Linked DNA regions of Homo sapiens: region 2 is linked to region 1. The links come from fine-mapping of genetic effects on plasma protein levels. Region 1 holds a variant in brackets. A gene starts in the other region. All regions are shown on their forward strands.

What was found. A credible set is the group of variants that fine-mapping cannot tell apart. PIP is the chance, under the fine-mapping model, that this variant and not a neighbour inherited with it causes the effect. Protein levels are from antibody-based Olink assays in UK Biobank. Linkage for the fine-mapping came from a reference panel and not from the study's own genotypes, which makes the PIPs less certain.
Region 2: TF starts here. The variant in region 1 is the best candidate, but not a certain one, in a credible set for the plasma level of the TF protein (UK Biobank, PIP 0.82).

What each region holds. Positions count from the first base shown.
Region 1 is chr2:189,519,922-189,525,298 of GRCh38, forward strand. No RefSeq gene overlaps it. Among named protein-coding and RNA genes, the nearest start is that of SLC40A1, 58 kb to the right of the region's middle. The variant C/T (reference allele first, on the strand shown) is at 2,840.
Region 2 is chr3:133,742,160-133,747,499 of GRCh38, forward strand. TF (transferrin) reads left to right here and starts at 4,234. Exons shown (of 17, transcript NM_001063.4): 1 at 4,234-4,324. The coding sequence starts at 4,282.

The sequences.
Region 1 (5,377 bases):
TGAAGGGCTGTCTCCTTCCTGATTATTTTACTTTTAACCCAACACAACAAATAGAAGGCAGATTTCCCAAACACACCAAGGAAGTTGAATGGCCTGAAGAAAATCTGACATCTGCATATCAGCATGGACTAGCTCTCAAATACTTTGCATGAATAATAAATTAAAATGGCAGCTCAAGCAGGACAGGCAGATGAGAAAAACAAAAAAACGAAAACCCAAAAGCCTGGCCAGGAGATAAGTACCTGATAAAATCATTCTTTTCAAGGAATGCCAGGAACCCAGATTTGAAGGTTGACCATGTCAACCTCTTCAGTCTCTGGCTCCTCTCAAGAAAAAAATGTGATAAATAGATAAGACTAAATTATAATTAGCATTTCAGTAGTTGTTTATACAGTACTTCAAGGTCCTTAAAAGCAGTTCTTTCTAAGCCTCTTAAATGTTTAGGCATGCTATTAATCTGTGTTATAAAGATGACAACTTATTTAGCAAATGTACACAGCAGTCTAGCCAATTATGACGAACTTCAAAATAGCAGAGTCCAAACCAATAGACTTTATTGATGTGTGTTTGCCCATGCTACTAATTTAGCATTTGAAGTTAAATTTAAAAGCAAAGCGCTTAATGTGAAGCTGCATCAGTTATTAACTAATGACTTATACATTCTTACACATTAAGTACATATATACAATGCATTTTAAGATGAAAAGAAAACTTTAAATAGGCCGGGCGCAGTGGCTCAGGCCTAATCCCAACACTTTGGGAGGCCGAGGTGGGCAGATCACCTGAGGTCAGGAGTTCAAGACCAGCCTGGCCAACATGGTGAAACCCCATCTCTACTAAAAATACAAAAATTAGCTGGGTGTGGTAGCAGACCCCTGTAATCCCAGCTACTCGGGAGGCCAAGGCAGGAGAACGCTTGAACCCAGGAGGCGGAGGTTGCAGTGAGCCGAGATCACACCATTGCACTCCAGCCTGGGGGACAAGAGCGAGATTGTCTCAAAAAAAAAAAAAAAAAGAAAAAAAAGAAAAAGAAAAGAAAAGAAAACTTTAAATAGACTATAAAGTGTGATGAACTCCCTAGTCAACTGGCAAGTGCTCTCTTTTCCAAAAGATTCAAGCAGAGGAGGATCAGTCATCAGATAGGAGGTGTCCAAGGCTCCCACTGCTTGGGAGGCAGAACTCTCTAGATCTGGGAATCGCAGCTCTAGATAGGGGCCAACTCAGGAATTACTGTGAAGCCCTTGAAATCTTCAGATACAAAATATACCTCAAGACGTTCTAATAAAAAGTTTTGGGTAGAGTTCTAGAGACAGCAGATTTAAAACATGGGTGAGGCTCTGACAAAACTTGATGATAGTGCAGATAGTACACTTTGCTGATGATTTCAAAATCTAAGCTAAAGCACTGCTCCCAAACTAAGAATTAATGTGCTGCTATAAGCCTAAACTTATAAAAATCATTGTTAAACTCTGCTTTCTAAGTAAGACCTTTAGGGGTACTTTGACTCTTTTAGTTGTTAAAGCCAGTACTAAATTGGATATTATCTCCATCCAGCGTAAATGTGTTCACCATTTTATAGATGGGAAGCATGAAGCCAGAGAGATAAGGCATTTTCCCTACATCATACAGCAAATAAATGACAGTTTGTAATATAATTCAAATATCTCCATTCAATAACTAGAAACCACAACAGTCATATAGCTAACCATTCTTGAGCATGGTTTTTAATTCTTTACATGATTTTTTGTATTTATTTTCCAATCTATAATGTAGGTACTACTGTCATTCTCATTTCACATCTGGGGAAATGAAGCACAGAGTGGCTATACAGCCTCTTCGAGGTCACACGCAGCTAGTAAAAAGAGGCAGGAGTGAAATTCAGCCAGCCTATCTCCCCAGTCCATGGTCTTAACCACTATACTCTCACCCTTGATTTTTCTACCAACTTCCCCATTGTAACTGTTTGTGGGTGCTGTATCTATTAGATAACCATAAATGACCCAGGTGTAGAGCAAGTCCTCCAACAGTGCAAAGACAAAATGAAACCACTAGGGTGTCTTTTTGTCTAATTATCAATAACCAGGATCAGCCCAAAGGAGGCAAATGTACCCCCAATCCCCCAACTAGCCACAATTCTTGTCATCACTTGTGGTCTTTTGGTTCAGGGCCTCAGTGCTCTGAGAATTCCTAACTCTACCAGCATTCACATTAATTTTACTGAGGCATTCTCTCCATGTACACAGTTGTTTGTTTTATAGAAATGTAAACACATTTCACCACTCACTGTTGCTTAAATACCTTCTATGATATTCTTGCCAAATGGCCTGGAAATTTGAAACCTCCCATGGTAGCTCATTCCATGTTTGGACAACTTTAAATGTCAGAAATTTCTTCCTCTCATTGAAACTAAATCTATCTGTAGCTGCCTTTTATTTTCCCTAGTTAATAACTTTTAGGTTTAATCTGATTTTTCTTATTTTGAGCATTTAATAAAAATGACAGACCTTATCTCCAGGAAAAAAAAATTTAGACATGAATAAAAACTTGTACAATCTTTGCGGAATTGCAGTGTTCTGAAGGCCTATGAATGGTCTATGGACTTTGGACTTAGAAACTCTCTTTTAATAACAGCCCTTCAAATACCATAAGGCAAGTGTGTTCCCCCCCTTTACTGATGTACTGTGTTCAAGTACTTATACCTCTCTTCTCTCTCCACGGAATTGCATCTGCTTAGATTTTGCTGCCCATTTCAGCCCACGGAAACCTTTCTAAATCAAGTTCTATGATCTAATCTATTCACTTCCCCTCCTTGGAGTTGCTTTTAGGCTTCATCAGCATG[C/T]TCTAGTCTTTTCAACACAGCCAATGGAAAGATATGGGCTGGGAAACAGCTGGAAACAAAGCACTGTAGTTGGCAACTAGCAACCTGCCTCTCAAAGAATGTCATTCAGTGTAAGTAGGATGTGTCCAGGACATTTTTTGCAAAGATCATTTACTGCGACCAAAGTCCATGAATACACAAGGAAGTGTGCATATTTAACAAGCAGAATATAATCATACGCAGTTAACTTTATTCCCAATAGAGACCTGCTTTTGTTCTGTTTTCTTCTAGGTTGGCTAGGTCAGGAATTGGACTAACCAACTCAGGGAGTATGAAAACATGTGAGCCACATGATTAAGAGCTTAAGTACTGATTGCAAAATTTCCTTTTATAGTCTAGCATGTGACCTTATGAAACTCACATATTTTCCCAGGTCTGAAGACCCCAAAACTTTTAGCCTTCCTACGTACATAGAATGGCTACCCAGTGGCCATTCTTTTGGCTTGAAAGATTCTCATGGTCACTAATTTAAATGCCATGTTTGGTATTAAGGGATACTTTAGTAGTTTAATTTACTTGTTTTAAAATAAACTTTTTCATGGCTTTGAGGGCAACTTTTACTTCTAGTGTTCTAGAGTTTTATGGACAAGTTCACATTCACCCTGTCCATGTACTCCATAGATTTTATAAATGAAGTCATATCCCTTTTAAAGTTTATCACTTCAAAACTAAGAGTTGTAATGAAGCCAGCATTGAGGAGTAGAAAGAAAATTGAAAATGATCTGTCAGGGGACCCTATTCTGTTATTAACCACCCAAGAAATTGTGGACAATTAAATTATCCTTTCTGGGCCCCTTATTTCTCATATGTAAAAAAAGAGGTCGTGACTTCTTCTCTAAGGCCTCCTCCATTTTTCAAAATTCTGTCATTCTCATTTTCTTAAATTAGAAGGGTGCACTAAACCATCAGAAGTAAGACAAACAGGCCAGGTGTAGTGGCTCACGCCTGTAATCCTAGCACTTTGGGAGGCCGACGTGGGTGGATCACTTGAGGTCAGGAGTTGGAGACCAGCCTGGCCAACATGGAGAAACCCCGTCTCTACTAAAAATACAAAAATTAACCGAGCATGGTGGTGGGCGCCTGTAACCCCACCTACTCAGGAGAATCACTTGAACCCTGGAGGCCGAGGTTGCAGTGAGCCGAGATCGTGCCCCTGCACTCCATCCTGGGAGACAGAGTGAGACTCCATCTCAAAAAAAAAAAACAAAAAACAAAACTAAGACAAAGAGTAGCATCTGGATTCCTTTCTGTGCATTAAACTTCAAAACAAAGTATTATTTTAATATACAAGGGCTATCATACAATATAATTTCATTTTATTCATGGTACATAGTAGATCACAGGATACAATCCCTCTAACCCAGTGGTTCCTAAACTTGGTTGCAGGTTGGAAACACCTGGGGAATTTTTTAAATGGCTTTTGCCTAGATCTTACTATATTAGCCCATGTTCACACTACCATAAAGATACTACCTCAGATTGGGTAATTTATAAACAAAAGAGGTTTAATTCACTCACAGATCTGCATGGCTGGGGAGGCCTCAGGAAACTCACAATCATGGCAGAAGATGAAAGGGAAGCAGACACCTTCTAGGCATCAGGAGAAAGAACGCCAAGCAAGTAGGGGAAGCCTCAACCTTTAAACCCTCAGATCTAATGAGAACTTGCACAAGAACAGCATGAGGGAAACCGCCCCCATGATCCAATCACCTCCCACCAGGTTCCTCCCTTGACACAGGGAGATTACAATTCGAGATGAGATTTGGATGGGGACAGAGAGCCAAAATCTTACCCCCAAATCGTCTGATTTAATTGGTAAAGGGTAATAAGGCCTGATAGAGCAGCAAGAGTATAAAAACTTCTGCAGGTGCAAACAGTTGTTCAAATCCAGAGTCCTCAATTCTGGCTGCATACAAGAATCACTCGGTGATTTTTCACACCTGCCAATGCCTAGCCCCACCTCCAGATTCTGATTGAATTGGCCTGTGGGACCTGGGCCTTGATAGGCTTTAAAACTCTCCAGGTGGTTCTGATGTGCAGTCAGCGTTGAGAACCATTCTTCTATTCCCTACCACACAAGTTCTATCTAGTTGATCATCCTGACCTCCTACTCCATCCCACAGTGGCCACTCATTGAATGAAAGAACCTTGGACCTTATTAAAAGGTACAACTCTACCTTCATTATATCAACCTCGTGCCAACTTCCTGCTTTTTCTCTAGAATCATAAGCCTTTCATCTTGTCAATTAACCAACGCTCCCTATCCTGTGACTTGACCTGTTTTTTGATCTCTCAAAAGCTTCTTTTCAGATTGCAACCCCGCTCCTTTCTATCACCTCCTGTCTGCTTCATTCATCACTCTCTCCAGTAGTTTGAGTGCTTTTGCCCATTACTTCAAACTTCCGGATTATCCTGACCAAATTTCTCCTATGATTCCAAGCAACTACTATTAAAGAGAATCTAAAAGACACATCAAACTGAAAAAAATCTCATTATGGC
Region 2 (5,340 bases), not on the chromosome of region 1:
TTTGTAGAGACGAGTTCTCACTATATTGCCCAGGCTGGTCTTGAACTCGTGAGCTCAAGCAATCCTCCTGCCTCAGGCTTCCAAAGCCCTAGGATTACAGGCATGAGCCACCACCCCCACGCTGTAATTCTTAAATGTTTGATGGAATTCATTCCACCTGGCCCTGGACTATTCTTCATGAGACAGGTATTTTTGCAGACTCCCCTGTGAAAAGAATGGAAACCTTGAGAATCTTCATTGTCCAAGGACTTCTGAGAGGTAGAACAGAGATAGAGAAAGGGAAAGAGAAGGAGAGAGAGAGAGAGAAAGAGAGAGAGAGTGAGAGCGAGTGAGCAGTGGTGTCATGTGGCATTTCAAAATGCCTGGCATTTTCCTAAAAGTACCCTGCCCAGTCCCCAACCCCCTAGCCATACAGCCCGACCCAGCGGGCTTGCAGGGTGACTGATTTCGTGAATGTCGGTTCTCAGGCTGCCAGGCTGCTGCTTCTCAAGGATGACCCAGACTTAGAGAAGTCTCTGGTGTCAGGCAGAGGACACTGGGTGGGGGACAGGAGGAACTGCTCAAAACAGACAGAGGCTCTTTGTTTGCTTTGCTTCTGTGTCAACTGGGCAACATTTGGAAACAACAAATATTGGTTCAGAGGCCCACTGCTTTCTTACCCACCTCCTGCTGGTCAGCTTTTCCAGCTTTCCTGCACGTACACACAAGCGCAGCTATTTCTTTAAGGGCCAACTCGTGGTTGAAATTTGAGAGTTTTGCCCTGTTTGCGGTGAAAGATTTGGCTCATGCTTGGGTTGGTCTAGAACTGGAAGCTTCCTTTATGTCCTCTATCAATCTCTTTCTCTTTCTCTTTCTCTCTCACCTCCCTCCCTCTCTTTCCTCCCCCACTAAATAAATAAAGAGAAGGTCAATATCAAGAAGGCAGCTGTGGTCTGGAGAAGGGCAAGATTTAGGAAGTTTGAGTTCAGGTCTCAGAGCTCCATGAATAAGGACCCATCATTTGACTGTAATGACCACATGTGATAAATGGAGGTACTGATCTTATCTTGCATGGCTGCCCCAATGATCTTGCCCCAGGACAGTGCCTGACACATACAAGGGGATAAAAACATGATATTTTCTTCCAGCTGAGCATAATCAAGCCAGTCCATGTCTAAGGATCTGCAGTTGGTACTCAGACCTCTCCCAGACTGACCAGCCCCTGTGCTGGCAAAGCCCTGGGGGCTGTGTGCTTTTGGAGAAATGGCAAGGCTGGGAGTCTCATGTCTGTCCCTCTCTCGGTGTGACCCCAGATGAGCTCCTTGGCCCCTGCATGTCCTGGTTTCCTGGGAGAGGCAGTGTCCCTGGTGGATGTGTACACTCTGGAACCAGACTGCCTTCTTTTGTATTCTGACTTTGCAGCTGACCTTGAACAAGATATCATCCTCTCTTGTCCTCAGTTTCCTTGTCTCATCTGTAAGATACAGATGCTAAAGCACCAAAGTCAGAGGGGTATGGTAAGTGCTCAGTGAAGCTCCCAGTAAATCTCAGCCATCATTAAGCTATTAAAAGGGACAGTGATTCTCCAACTCCAGAACATCTCTGGTATAGAATTAAAGAATATAAATGAGAGCACAGGTACAAGTGTCATGGACATGGAGCGCTGTAATGTTAACCTCTTACCTTCACATGCTCCTATAGACATATACAGGCATAGGCACCCCATACAGCTAGGGCCATGCACACATGTACACCCCAAAGCTGGCCTCACCCCTGCCTACCCCATCCAAGGAATGGCAAGCACGAAGCTCTGCTGTTGTCCTCTTGAGCAAAAGCCAAGGCCCTGGCCTCTCCATCTAGGTGTGTGTAGATGACGTGGGAGCACCAGTTCTCTATGTCTTGTCTGAGCTTCCTTCATATCCCATGAGGCTGTATATTTCCTTCCCAGCACCTGTCTTGGGCTTGGACTCAAAGGACCCTTCTGAGGACAGGGCATAGAGCTGGCTGCTCTGGAGAGGACTCAGCCTGGCCAGTAGGTAGTTGCTCCCTGCTGAGGGGCTCTGGCTAGGCTATGGGCCTGTGGCTGGAGGACTGGCCTCAGCGGGGCTTAGTCTACGAATGTAGATGGGCTCCAGAAAAGGAGAATCACTGACCATCTTCTTTCCATGCCCTGCGTTGAGCTTCCCTGAGTTTGTGGCATGGGCTCAACCTTTCGTAACTGCACTTCCTGCTCTCTGGCAGACCCTGCAAGCTTACTACAGGGCCTGTCCATGCATCAGCTGTATGTGTGCATGCTGCTCTGCTGGGTGCCTTCCAGTTAGCCTTGCCCCTGACTTTTCCTGCTCATCTCACATCCTTACCTCAAGGTCTCCAAATGAATCCAGACCACTGCCTAGAGCCTGCTGCAGGGGCAGTAGGAATATGGCCCTCATGCTAACAGTCTTCTTTCCCTATGGCTCAAGCACAAGGGGCCCGTGGACGGGCAAGGGGGGAGTAAGACAGGGCAGCAGTGGTCACTCTCCCTCGCTGGTGAGGCTGATGTGTTGGGAAAGCCAGACTTGACTTCTGTCCTCACTGTAAACAGAAAGCTTCTGTAGTGGACTCTAAAGTGGGAGGTATGTAACCCCTTTGCATATGAGATAATCTTTTGGAGTGTGGGAGAACATAATCTAACTTCCAGTTATATTTATTGTTATTGCAAAAGATTAACAAATTATCATTCATTCATATTGAATGTGTGAATTGGCCCTATCTCCCACCTGAGTCTGCAGTCATGACAGATGGAGCCTTTCAGGTGTCCTAAGGGAAGATGGGGTTCACCTCACAATGCTAAAGGTGAAAAGGGGAGTGCCGACCCTGCCCTTTGTTTTGGCATTTTTATTTCCATACTTTGTGGTTTGTATGTGCCCAGTTAAACGGATGTACAGATTAGATAATCTGGCTTTAACTCCAACCTTCACGAGATGCACACATGCCTTAAAAAGATTCTTACAAAGAAACTAGAATTAGGAGACAATTCTGACAACACAAAAACAAGTGAACAAAAATCAAATGACTGACCTGACGTGTCCACTAGGCTTGATATGAGCTTGGTCAACTAAAACATGAGACAGAATGAATGACCATCTGGTCAGGTTGGATAAGAAGTAACTTTTGGCAAAATCTCTGAAGTCTGGATTTACACTTCGTGGAAGGAATCTTGACCTTTCCCCAAGTATATTATGCCTTGAGATAATAATCCTGTATAAGGCCGCATAAGCAAAACGACATTTGAAAATGAGTTTCATCTTTAGCTCATCCTTTTACAAATTTCTATTCCTTGTGCATGATTGAAGTGTACACATTTTTTAGTTAAAATATAAGCATATAGAAGGCACAAGTTCAATATTTTTCATGATAAGGATGTGTAATTAAACTGGTTAGGAGACTCATCGACTAGAGGGGGACATGGTGGCCCCAGGCTGTAAGAACAGGCCACACCGTCCACTGGGCCGCTTGCTTTGTGCTAAGATGACACTTTGTTCTGAGCCTCACAGTGTCTTGACCATGTTCCTGGAACCTTCTTGTTGGAGGGAGTTCATCTTCCCCTATGACTCTGTCCCTAGTCTAAGGTGTCCCACAGGAAGCTTGAGGGCGGGAAGTTTTCCAGCCCAGGAGCCTGAGCTCAGCGGGGCAGGAAGAGGGAGCAGCTCCTCCGTGGGGGACCTTTGAGAGCCCAGGAGCAGGATTTCGAGGGACACCTGGTGGGGAGCAAAAGGTGCTGAGTCTGTCTTTGACCTTGAGCCCAGCTTGTTTCTCCTGCATCCTCCCCCAAAAGGGGCTTTGCCTGTCATTCTGCAGTTCTAGTGTGGGGTCTGGGCGCAGTTCTTTTCCCTCTCCAGCCTCGGAGTCTTCCTCTGTGGACTGCGCAGATAGGACTGGTGGCACGGACCAGCTCTGCAGCCCTGGAGTCAGGAGCAGAGCCCCCCGGCTCCCAGCCCGCCGTAGCCGCTCCTGGCACCGAGCGAGCCGCGATGACAATGGCTGCATTGTGCTTCATGTCCCTTCCCATCAACATTTCTGTGCTGGACTCCTTCCACTCGCGGGTCGTCTCCAGAGCTCAGAAAATGAGGTGATCAGTGGGACGAGTAAGGAAGGGGGGTTGGGAGAGGGGCGATTGGGCAACCCGGCTGCACAAACACGGGAGGTCAAAGATTGCGCCCAGCCCGCCCAGGCCGGGAATGGAATAAAGGGACGCGGGGCGCCGGAGGCTGCACAGAAGCGAGTCCGACTGTGCTCGCTGCTCAGCGCCGCACCCGGAAGATGAGGCTCGCCGTGGGAGCCCTGCTGGTCTGCGCCGTCCTGGGTGAGTGCGGGCACGGGGTAGCACCGCAGAGTCGCTGGCCCGCGCGTTCCCTGCAACCCGGGCGGCCACCGCGCAGCCTGCATGCACTCCGCGCTCAGGCTGGAAGCCTGGGTGTCTGGGTGCCTTTCCATTGCCTCTCTACGCCCCACCCCTGGCCTTTGCTTGGGCTTCTAGACACCTTTCACTGCACTCACTGTCTTCTCCCCCTCCTCCTCTTTGTCCAGTAAATCTTGCAGCAGTGAAATACAATAAATCAGAGCACGTCTAACCAGGTTATCAAAACCCTTTGCTGCTGCCTCTTGTCAAGTCCGAACTCCTTAGCATGGCATTCAAGGCCTCCCGGGTCTGACCATTCCCCTTTCAGAGGCTGATGTCCCCTGGGTGCCCTGGGAGCTGTAGATGTCCTGCCAAGGAAGCGGTGCCATCGAGCGGTCAGAGCATGGGGTTTGAAGCCAGACTTCTTGGATCCAAGTCCTGGCCGGCTCCTCACCAGGGAGGGGGTCATCACAGCACTTGCCTGGGAGGGTCAAATGAGGGTCAGCGAGGTGGCAGATGCTGAGTACCAGTGGCAGATGTTGCACACATCCTGCTATGGGGCAGTGGCTGACGCCACACTCCCCGACCTCCTGAGGTGGGGCCCCCTTCATACTCTAACTTCTGCCTGCCATTCATGGGGCATTTGTCACACTGTTGGGGCTTCCACGTTTAGTTTTCTCTCCCCATAAGCTAGCAATTCCTTGAGAGAGGACCCCACGTTACTTGCCTTTATCCCCGCACAGAGCACTTCACAGGCTGTGCAAGGTAATGCTCCACTGAGGACACATTCTCGCCTATGGGAACTCTGGAGGCAGGGCTTTGTGGAGGGGCTGCCACAGGCTTATGTTGCCTCCTAGGATTTCCCATGGGCCAAGAGGGAAAATGGGGGTCGCTGGGGTGGCCATCCCTGGTGGCCCCTCCTCATGCATCCTGGAGAGCTGTGGGCCTCCTCTCCACAGGCTTTGTGGATCTTCTTCAGA